Linked DNA regions of Homo sapiens. The protein of the gene in region 3 purifies or fractionates together with the protein of the main gene of each other region. This does not show direct contact. Each region holds a gene or a part of one and is shown on either strand. Other genes may lie near its edges.

Region 1 (3,652 bases), on a different chromosome or scaffold from region 3:
AGGCGGGTGGATCACGAGGTCAGGAGTTCGAGACCGGCCTCATCAACACGGTGAAACCCCGTCTCTACCAAAAATACAAAAAATTAGCTGGGCATGGTGGCATGCACTGTTATCCCAGCTACTCAGGGCAGGAGAATTGCTTGAACCCGGGAGGCAGAGGTTGCAGTGATCCGAGATTGCGCCACTGCACTCCAGCCTGGGTGACAGAGTGAGACTTCGTCTCAAAAAAAAAAAAAAAAAAAAAAATAGGTGGGGAAGGGGAGTAGTACAATCATTTTCTATCTGCTTCCATACAGACAGGCATTCCTAAGATGCTGATAATGATTTCATAGTTCCTGGCCCTGTCCTTTCTACAGTCTTAAAAGAAAATACATTCTCTTTTGTAAACAAGACAACCAGTGTTCCTTTATTAAATATCTGAATAAGACTCTACAATCCATTTTCCATTAGCCAATGACATTTCAAAAATGTCTCAAAAGTCCAAACCAGAGGAATGGACGAACAAATCGTGGTATACTCAATGAACTCTTGATGCAGGCAACAACAGAAATGAACCTCAAAATCATTATGGCAAGCCAAAGAAGGCAAACACAAGAGTACAAGCTAAATTATCCCACTTAAGTTCTAGAAGAGACAAATTAATCTATAGTGAAAGAAATGAGAATCATAGTTGGAGGTGCTGGTGTTAGGGACTGACTGGGAAGAGGAATGAAGACTTTTTTCTTAGAAATATTTTATTCAGGTTGAGTATTCCTTACCCAAGATGCCTGGGACCAGAACTGTTTCAGATTTCATACTGTTTTGGATTTTGGAATATTTGCATATACATAGTAAGATATCTTTGGGAAGGAACCCAAATCTAAACATGAAATTCATTTACGCTTCATAAATATCTTACACACAGAGCCTGAAGGTAATTTTATACAACATTTTAAATAATTCAAAACATAACACAAAGTTTTGACTATGTTTTAACTGACCAGTCACAAGGTCAGGTGTGAAATTTTCCACTGTGGCATCATGTTGGTGCTTAAGAAGTTTCAGATTTTGGAGCATTTAAGATTCAGATTTTTGGATTACCAATGCTCCACCTAACTTTTTTTTTTTTGAGACAGAGTTTCGCTCTTGTTGTCCAGGCTGGAGTGCAATGGCACAATCTCAGCTCGCGGCAACCTCCGCCTCCCGGGTTCAAGCGATTCTCCTGCCTCAGCCTCCTGGGTAGCTGGGATTACAAGTATGCGCCACCGCGCCGGGCTAATTTTGTATTTTTAGTAGAGACGGGGTTTCTCCATGTTGGTCATGCTGGTCTCGAACTCCCGATCTCAGGTGATCTGCCCGTCTTGGCCTCCCACAGTGCTCCACTAATCTTAATAAGAGTGTAGGTTAGATGGGTATGTATATCCAATTGCAAAAACACCCAACTGTACACGCAAAATCTGTATTTCACTGTCTGTAAACTATACCTCACTTTAGAAAAGGACAATAAGAATATTTTTCTGATCATGTCATCCCCTGCTTGAATCCTTCAAATAGCTTTTCATAACATTTAGAACAAATTTCCATTCCTTAACATGACCTAAGAGATGTGAACTGCGCCCTGTCTCCCTCTCCATCCTTAATCTTTAAGATCCAGACAGGTTGGTTTTCTATCCCTCAAATATACTCCCAATTTTCCTTTGAGCTTTTGGAATCATGGCTCCTTCTATCTGGAATGCTCTTTTCTTAGGTTAGCTTAATCAGATTCCAGCTGAAATCTCCCCCTTATCAGGGGCCTTCCTTGACCGTGCCCCATCCAACACAGCTCTCCCTACCTTCTCCCTCCAAAGTTCCTGGAAGTGCTCAATATTACTATCTGGAAAAATAAATGAAGGATTTTTTTTTTTTTTTTGAAACAGTCTTGCTCTGTCACCCAGGATGGAGTGCAGTGGTGCGATCTTGGCTCACTACAAGCTCCGCCTCCCGGGTCAGGCCATTCTCCTGCCTCAGCCTCCCGAGTAGCTGGGACTACAGGCGCCCGCCACCATGCCTGGCTAATTTTTTTGCATTTTTACTAAAGATGGAGTTCCACCATGTTAGCCAGGATGGTCTCGATCTCCTCAACTCGTGATCTGCCTGCCCCGGCCTCCCAAAGTGCTGGGATTAGAGGCGTGAGCCACTGCGCCCAGCCATAAATGAAGGATTAACTAAAATATCTGCCAAAATATAAATGACCACAGGGAACATAACTACTACCTTACATTAGTTTTCATCATTAATCTATTTGTTGATATTGCTACATCTTTAAAGGCTCTTTAGCTAAATGTTTAAAAGAATGTACAAAGTTATTATACACAGACACATGCAAACAAAAAGACAGTAAGCAAGGCAATATTAATAATAGAATTCAAGGCAAAAAAAATAACATGATAAAGATGATGTTATTAAAGGCACAATCACAAAAATACATCTTAAACTATACATCCAACAATATAGTATCAAAATACATACAACAAACAGAAAAAGGAAAGTTTAAGAAATCACACATCTCTATATAAAATTTAAAAGATTAAGACAATTTATAAAAATACAGATGATAGGCCGGGCGTGGTGGCTCACGCTTGTAATCCCAGCAGTTTGGGAAGTTGAGGCAGGTGACTCGCTTGAGCTCAGGAGTTCAAGACCACCCTGGGCAACACAGTGAAACCCTGTCTCTACAAACAATACAAAAATTAGTTAGGAGTAGTGGCAAGCACCTGTACTCCCAGCTACTTGGGCAGCTGAGGTAGGAGGATTGCTTGAGCCCAGGAGATGGAGCCTGCAGTTAAGCTGAGATCGCGCCGTTGCACCTCCAGCCTGGGTGACAGAGCCAGACCCCGTCTCAAACAAAACAAACACAACAAACAAAAAAGATGATATAGATATATATCTGGTAATTAACAAGCCAGAATTAACAAATACACACAACTCTGAACCCAACAGAAAAAAATCTTTTAAAAATATCTATAAAAGTTCATTAAGGTCGGATGCAGTGGCTCATGCCTGTAATCCCAGCATTTTGGGAGTCCAAGGTGGGTGGATCACTTGAGGACAGGAGTTTGAAACTAGCCTGGCCAATGTGGTAAAACCCCGTCTCTACTAAAAATACAAAAATTAGCTGGGCATAGTTGTGGATACCTGTAATCCCAGCTACTTGGGAGGCTGAGGCAGGAGAACTGCTGAACCCAGGAAGTGGAGGTTGCAGTGAGCCGAAATCACGCCACTGCACTCCAGCCTGGGCAACAGAGTGAGACTCTGTCTCAAAAAAAAAAAAGTTCATAAAATGTAAATCATACAGTAAGATATGAAGAAAGTCTCAAATTACTGCAAAATGTAGAAATATTACAGCCACATTCTGATCTTAATAAAAATTAATATTAGCTCACCATGATATGGAAAATAAGACACTCTTCTAATAACTCATGACTCAAAGAAGAAATTAAAACTAAAGTAACAGACTATTTAAAAACTAACGAGAACACAGTATCTCCAAACCTATGGAAATGTGGTCAAAAGTCACCATCAGAGGAAAATGGCAAACAAGCTTTCACTGCAAATACACATACAAATCCAATCCAGCAGGGTATTAAAAGCATAATGCATCATAACTGGAAAGTTTTATTGCCAGCAACAGAAA
Region 2 (3,652 bases), on a different chromosome or scaffold from region 3:
TTTCGTTCTAAGTTCCAGAATAGAACTGTCCATCTTTTCAAAAACTATACTGTCCAGAAAGGTTGTTTGTTTGTTTTTTGCAGGAAGGATCTAGGGCACTGATAGCAACTATTAGATAGTGGTTCTAAGTTCCAAAGGGAACCATAGATAAAGGAACCATATGTGTTATAGGTAAGGGACATATTTCATGTTGTTTATTTTCACTGCTCCTTGCAAACCAGGGATAACCCATAGGCAGTATGCCCAGAGTAGCATGTTGTTTAATCCTCACATTTTCACTATTTTATAGTCAGAAAACTGAAGTTGTACAAGATTAAGTAGAATACTCAAAGTCACACATTAAGAGTAGATTTACAATCCAGGTATATCTGCCCTAAAGCTCATGATCTTTCAACTATACTACTACCTAATGAAAAAAAGCAAATATGGCTTGTCTATACTATACCAGCATATAATAGGCCTGTATGTGTCTATAATAGACCTATGTATTATCAGCGCCCTGACTTAAGGACTAGATTTATAAAAGGAAAATAAAGAGGAAGTGTATGACCTCCAAACACTGTCTCTAAAGTTTTGTCTACATTGAACCTATTCCCTTTCCCAAAAGACTTCAGTAAAACTAAAGATTGAAGTTCAGGGTATTTAAGTCCAATAGAAACTTAAGAGAAGTGTTTTTTGTCTTCCCAATAATTGGCTAAAACTTTTTAACCGGAAAAAAATGAGACTGGCCCTCTAATTTTTTTCTTCAGAACTTTTTTTTTTTTTTTTGAGATGGAATCTTGCTCTGTTGCCCAGGCTGGTGTGCAGTGGCATGATCTCAGCTCACTGCAACCTCCATCTCCTAGGTTCAAGCAATTCTCCTGCCACAGCCTCCTGAGTAGCTGGGACTACAGGCGCGTGCCACCACACCCGGCTAATTTTTTGTATTTTTAGTAGAGACAGGGTTTCACCGTGTTAGCCAGGATGGTCTTGATCTTCTGACCTCGTGATCCACCCGCCTCAGCCTCCCAAAGTGCTGGGATTACAGGCATGAGCCACCACGCCCAGCCAGGTCTTAACTTTTATGAGCAAACCAAATTAGACACATTACATTTTTATGTTTCTAAACAAAGTGAGTTGCTAGGTATAAGCACCTTTACAATTAATAGTATGTATTAACTCTTCCACTCAAAATTCTTCTATTATGTATTCCCTATCTTGATGTAGTTTTCACCTACTGCTCTAAATTATCAGAATTATTAGAATTATTATATCTTTACCCCAGTCACTGCTTTCTTCCCACAGGCTGGGGACCCAATGAACCTGGATAATATAAAAAATGACTTTAGAGGCCAGGCACAGTGGCTCATGCCTGTGATCCCAGCACTCTGGGAGAGGCTGGCAGGGGAGGATCACTTGAGCCCAAGAGTTCAAGATCAGCCTGGGCAACAGTGAGAAGACTCCATCTCTATATAAAATATACGTATACATACACACACATACACACACACACACACGTAATTTTTTAAATAAATAACATGTCAAAAATGTTACTGTTACTCCTGGACTCTAAGATAAACCAGAACAAGCAAAGTTTATTTCTTGGTTTGCTTCAATTATCAAGCAACAACTAGTTATTAACTTTAACTCATAATCATTACAGGGTAAGAATACAGAATTCACTGGGATCAAACAGGTTTACTGATTCTCCTTCACCACACCCAATTTTGGTTCCCTACTCCACTACGAAATCATATTGAAGACTTCAAGGCTCCCAGTTCCTATCTACAGTGTTTGAAGACCATTAACTTGGATAGAATTAAACTTAAAAAAGGCTGACAATCACAATAGGACCCAAGGCCAGACTTTTGTTTAGTCCTAATGATAAAACATGTGTGAAAAACAGAGGAACAATATACACTTCTTAGGATGATGACAGCAGCCTCCAGACGACTTCAAGTGAAAGAGCCTTACAAATTTTCAGCCCCTTCTAAAAAACATATACAAATTTATGGCAAAACAGAAAACTCAGGCACAGGATACCCAAAGCTAATATTCACCTTTTGCTTCTGGGAAGCACGGTTCTTCTCATCAGAGATCTTCTCTGGATTATATCTTATGAGTGATGGAATGGACACCTGGACAGGCACTTGGGCCGCAGGAATTGAGCCTCGCAGAGACTCTTTCTGCTTAGGCTTATCAGGAGTCACAGTGGGGATCACACGAAGATTGGGACGGCTACGAGTAGCTTGTTTGGTTATTGGCATTATCCTGTGTGGTTCAGGTACAGGGTGGTTTGACGGTTGAGAGGTGGGATACATGGGCCATCTGGAGGCTGCATATGCCATGTAGTGCCTATAGGCATCAAAAGAGGCAGGGGGAATGGCAGGTCCCTGGTAGTTCGGAGGTATCCGAGCTGCAGCAAACTGAGAGGCCCTTGGCATGTGAAACTGAGATAAAGCAGCAGTGTGTGGAAGTCTAATTGGGGCAGATGGGGCTGATGGCAACATGCACCTGACTGCAACAGATGACTGAAACCCACTACCAACCACCTCTGGTCCTGAAATATGACCCACTGGATGGTCAGACTTTAGGAATGGAGGGCTGTTTTTTGTGAGCAGGTAAGGATCCACAGGAGAAGGTGGGTGTGGATGGGACACCTCTGGAGAGTGGGTATTGCTATGATGTGCCTCCCTGCTCTCTAGTCTGTGGGGATCTGAGGAACGTCGATCAGCTGAGAAGCAGTGGTCAACTGAGGAACAGCGGTCAGCTGAGAAGCGGTGGTCAACTGAGGAACAGTGGTCAGCTGAAAAGTATCGGTCAACTGAGGAACGGCGGTCAGCTGAGGAGCGTAATGATGGCTTCTTGCCATGAAGTCGTTCCTGGGTGCGTGCAGCCAATTGACTAATCTCTGCTACTCCAATATCCAGCCCTATTGTCTTGAGCAAGTCATGGATCTTCGCATATTCTGGATTGGTCTCTTCTAGTGATTCTAGCTTTACAGCTGGAGCTGAAGACGGCAGGGAGCTTGCCTTCTGCCTCATAACTTCACTCTCAGAGCTCCCAAGGGGCTTTGGTACGGATTCTGCCTTTAAATCCTCTTCTTCATCCCCATAGAGAAATTTCTCCTCATCTTCAATGTCGGGAAAGCTACGTCGCCTTTTTTCCTGTGTACTGGTAGAATCAGCCAACATGCTCAGAATGCGGGAAAAACCACTGCCATCCTGGCTAGCTCTCTCATGGGGCAGCAGGAAGTCTGTGTGTCGCTCAGGTCCCTCAGCCTTCAAATCCAAATTATCCTTGTGGCATAGAAAACTTCCAAATTTTTCTCTGAGAGGACTGTTGTCTTTGGGAATCCCAGGAAGGGGACCCCATTGGTAGAGGTTGCCCTGAGGTTCCTTCAAGGCAGTCTCTACCATAGTCCCCTTGTTTTCAATCTCTGAGGCAAAAGCAGCAATAGCACCACTTAGTGGAAGGGATGGGTGCCCAGAGTAGAGAGGGTGATCCTGGCTGGAGCTGGTACTGCTGGAAAAACTCTCAAGCTGCAAAGACAAACACAACTGATTTAGTCTTATGCAGAATCTCAGAACATTAGTAATTGAGATAAATACTTAAATACTTTGGTCTTCCTGAATTAACAGGTGAGATACAAGTATGGATAAAAGGGAGGAAA
Region 3 (3,652 bases):
GTGCCTCAGCCTCCCAAGTAGTTGGGATTACAGGCACCCACCACCACGCCCAGCTAATTTTTATTAGAGATGGGATCTCACCATGTTGGGCAGGCTGGTCTTGAACTCCTGACCTCAGGTGATCTGCCAGCCTTAGCCTCCCAGAATGCTGGGATTATAGGCGTGAGCCACCATACCCAGCTTTTGTCTCTAGTTAAAAGAAAAAAAAAAGAAAGAAAGAAAGAAAAGAAAAAGATACATACCCAAATGATTTTTTTTTTTTTTGGATCAAAGAAGGAACTTTCCAACCAGCTCTGAGACCAGCCTATTGGCAGGGATGTAAATGAGTAAACCTTACTGGAGGGCAATTATTTACTTAGTTGTTTGTTTATTTTTCAGACAGGATCTCACTATGTTGCACTGGCCTCAAACTCCTGGGCTCAAACAATCTTCCTGCCTCAGACTCCCAAGTAGCTGGGATTATAGGCACACACTGTTTCTTAACAATATCCACCTATTGTATTTATAAATATTTATAGTCTTTCTTTTGCTAGTTTTACCTCCAGGAATTTATCTTAGAGAAATACATATGTATACAAAGATGTCCACACAGGGATATTTGCTGTGGCATTGCTTATGATATTGAGATAGCAGAAGCAGTCCATCAGTGCAGAACTGCTTAAATAAATTATGGCACATCCAGGCAACAGAACAGTATGCAGCCATTAAAAAGAACGAGTGCGGTCGGGTGCGGTGGCTCACGCCTGTAATCCCAGCACTCTGGGAGGCTGAGGTGGGTGGATCACGAGGTCAAGAGATCGAGACCAACCGGACTAACATGGTGAAACCCAGTATCCACTAAAAATACAAAAAATGGCCAGGTGCGGTGGCTCACGCCTGTAATCCCAGCACTTTGGGAGGCCGAGGCAGGCGAATCACGAGGTCGGGAGTTTGAGACCAGCCTGGCCAACATGGTGAAACCCCGTCTCTACTAAAAATACAAAAATTAGCTGGGCATGGTGGCGGGCGCCTGTAATCCCAACTACTCAAGAGGCTGAGGCAGGAGAATGGCTTGAACCCAGGAGGCGGAGGCGGAGGCGGAGGCGGAGGTTGCAGTGAGCCGAGATCGTGCCGCTGCACTCCAGACTCCAGCCGGGGCGACAGTGCGAGACTGTCTTAAAAAAAAAACAAAACAAAAATTAGCTGGGCGTGGGGGCGCACCCCTATAGTCCCAGCTACTCGGGAGGCTGAGGCAGGAGAATCTCTTGAACCTGGGAGGGGGAGGTTGCAGTGAGCCGAGATTGCGCCCCTGCACTCCAGCCTGGCGACAGAGGGAGACTCCATCTCAAAAAAAAAAAAAAAAAAAGAATGAGGGTTCAGTGGCTCACGCCTGTAATCCCAGCACTTTTGGAGGCCGAGGTGGCAGGATCACTTGAGCCCAGGAGTTTCAGACCAGTCTGAGCAACATGGTGAAACCCTGTCTCTAAATTAGCTGGGTGAGGTGGCATGCCCCTGTTGTCCCAGCAACTCTAGAGGCTGAGGTGGGAGGATCACATGAGCCCCAGGAAATGGCATATCATGTGAGCCCCATGAGGTACAGGCTGCAGTGAGCCGTGATCATGTCACTACACTCTAGCCTAGGTGACAGGAGTGAGACCCTGACTCAAAAATAAATAAATAAATATATAAATAAAATTAGCTGGGCATGGTGATGCACACCTGTAGTCCCAGTTACTCCAGAGGCTGAGGTGGGAGGACCACTTGAGACTGGCAGGGTCAAGGCTGCAGTGGACCATGATCGCACCATTGCACTCCAGCCTGGATAACAGAGTGAGACCTTGTCTCAAAAAAGAAAAAGAAAAAAAGAACCACTGTTCTAATCCAAGCAGTGTCACATATTTACTATGTGGTCCTTTCCGGAAAACGTTTGGATTTATTGTGTAATCCAACCAGTAGCTCATCTTTCAGGACTTGGTTTAAGTGTCACCTCCTCCAGGAAGTCTTCGTGCATCTCTCCAGCCCCCTCCCCAGGTTTCATTCCCTCTTTCTTACTCGCACGATATCCCATCCTCCTCCATCACATCATGTATCAACTGCCTGTCGTTACTGGCTTCTTGTCTGCCATCCCCACTAGACCACGAGGCGAAGGCTCTGGGACAGAGGATACGCTCAGTAAACACTGAACTATGGTCATACAGAATCCCCTGGCTCTGTCCCCTGAAGCCTGACAGCTGTGTGGGCTTGAAGTCCAGAAAGCCCTGTCCCCTTCCTCCCCCAGTGCCTCCACGAGAGATGGGGAGACTCACAAATGTCTTGGTGTACTGGTTAAGCATGAAGTCTCCACTGACAGCGTGCTGAAAGGCTTCCACGGCAAAGTCTGGTGGTGGGAAATCCGGGAAGCCCTGGCCCAAGTTCACGACGTCATGCTCACTGGCCAGTTTCACAAACTCCACCCTGGGTAACAAATGGAGAATCAGCACCAGCCCAGCCCTCCATGGTGACCTGGACTTCGGCCTGTTTAGAAAAACTGGACAACCGGCCAGGTGTGGTGGCTCACGCCTGTAATCCCAGCACTTTGGGAGGCCGAGGTGGGCGGATCACCTGAGGTCAGGAGTTTGAGACCAGCCTGGCCAACATGGTGAAACTCTGTCTTCACTAAAAATACAAAAGTTAGTCAGGCATGGTGGCAGGGGCCTGTAATCCCAGCTACTTGGAAGGCTGAGGCAGAAGAATCACTTGAACCCGGGAACCGGAGGTTGAAGTGAGCCGAGATCGCACCATTGCACTGCAGCCTGGATAACAAGAGTGAGATTCTGTCTTAAAAAAACAAAAACAAAAAACAAAAAACACACACATACACACACAAGAAAAACAAAAACTAGACAATCAGCAACTGTCCTGGCCTGAAGATCTGCCTAAGTGTCACAGCTGGTCCCCTACATTGAGATTAGGTCAGTCAGGCACATTGTTAATCGCAGGAATCAGCCCAGGGGCTTTCCAAGTTCTTCCACCATGACCCATAGGAAGAAATCATCTTTTTTTTTTTTTTTTGACAGAGTTTCGCTCTATCCCCTAGGCTGGAGTGCAGTGGTGCAATCTCAACTCACTGCAACCTCCGCCTCCCGAGGTCAAGCGATTCTCATGCCTCAGCCTCCTGAGTAGCTGGGATTACAGGCACCCGCCACCACGCCCAGCTAATTTTTGTATTTTTAGTACAGATGGGGTTTTGCTATGTTGGCCAGGCTGGTCTCGAACTCCTGACCTCAGGTGATCCACCGCCCCCCTTGGCCTCTCAAAGTGCTAGCAGTACAGGCGTGAGCCACCACTACCGGCCAAGAAATCACCTTTGCATCATCAACCCTGTGGAGCACAAACATGGAATGGAAGCTTCATCCTTCTTGGTGCAATCTACTGCAGTATTTTCTGTCCTGTCCTATCCTACTCTATTCTTTCCAAATACTAGTTGAGACCCCCTGTACAGATTGCATGACTCCTCCTTGGATTCGTCAACACCACAGTTAAACGCTCTGCTCATATAGCCTTCACAATGGCCTGTGAGGCACATCTTGTTCCTGGACCACTGTGGGGATAAGGAGTGGAGTGACTTGCCTAAAGCCTCCCAGCTAGTACAAGGCACAGCCAGCCAGCCTTTCTACTTCCATCTCAAGCAAAG

What was found.
Region 1: the proteins of KYAT1 (region 3) and YEATS2 purify together in Homo sapiens (affinity purification with mass spectrometry; 2 studies listed by BioGRID and IntAct, with this or other methods). This does not show direct contact.
Region 2: the proteins of KYAT1 (region 3) and ZNF318 purify together in Homo sapiens (affinity purification with mass spectrometry; 2 studies listed by BioGRID and IntAct, with this or other methods). This does not show direct contact.

The regions. Positions count from the first base shown.
Region 1 is NC_000003.12:183,704,273-183,707,924, reverse strand, and holds part of YEATS2 (YEATS domain-containing protein 2), read right to left. Parts: intron 1-3,652. UniProt on the Homo sapiens protein: Chromatin reader component of the ATAC complex, a complex with histone acetyltransferase activity on histones H3 and H4. YEATS2 specifically recognizes and binds histone H3 crotonylated at 'Lys-27' (H3K27cr).
Region 2 is NC_000006.12:43,352,625-43,356,276, forward strand, and holds part of ZNF318 (zinc finger protein 318), read right to left. Parts: intron 3,522-3,652; coding exon 2,040-3,521; intron 1-2,039.
Region 3 is NC_000009.12:128,840,369-128,844,020, forward strand, and holds part of KYAT1 (kynurenine--oxoglutarate transaminase 1), read right to left. Parts: intron 2,793-3,652; exon of another isoform or gene 2,434-2,792; coding exon 2,286-2,433; intron 1-2,285. Other genes in the region: KYAT1-SPOUT1 (uncharacterized protein LOC127739546), read right to left, coding at 2,286-2,433. UniProt on the Homo sapiens protein: Catalyzes the irreversible transamination of the L-tryptophan metabolite L-kynurenine to form kynurenic acid (KA), an intermediate in the tryptophan catabolic pathway which is also a broad spectrum antagonist of the three ionotropic excitatory amino acid receptors among others.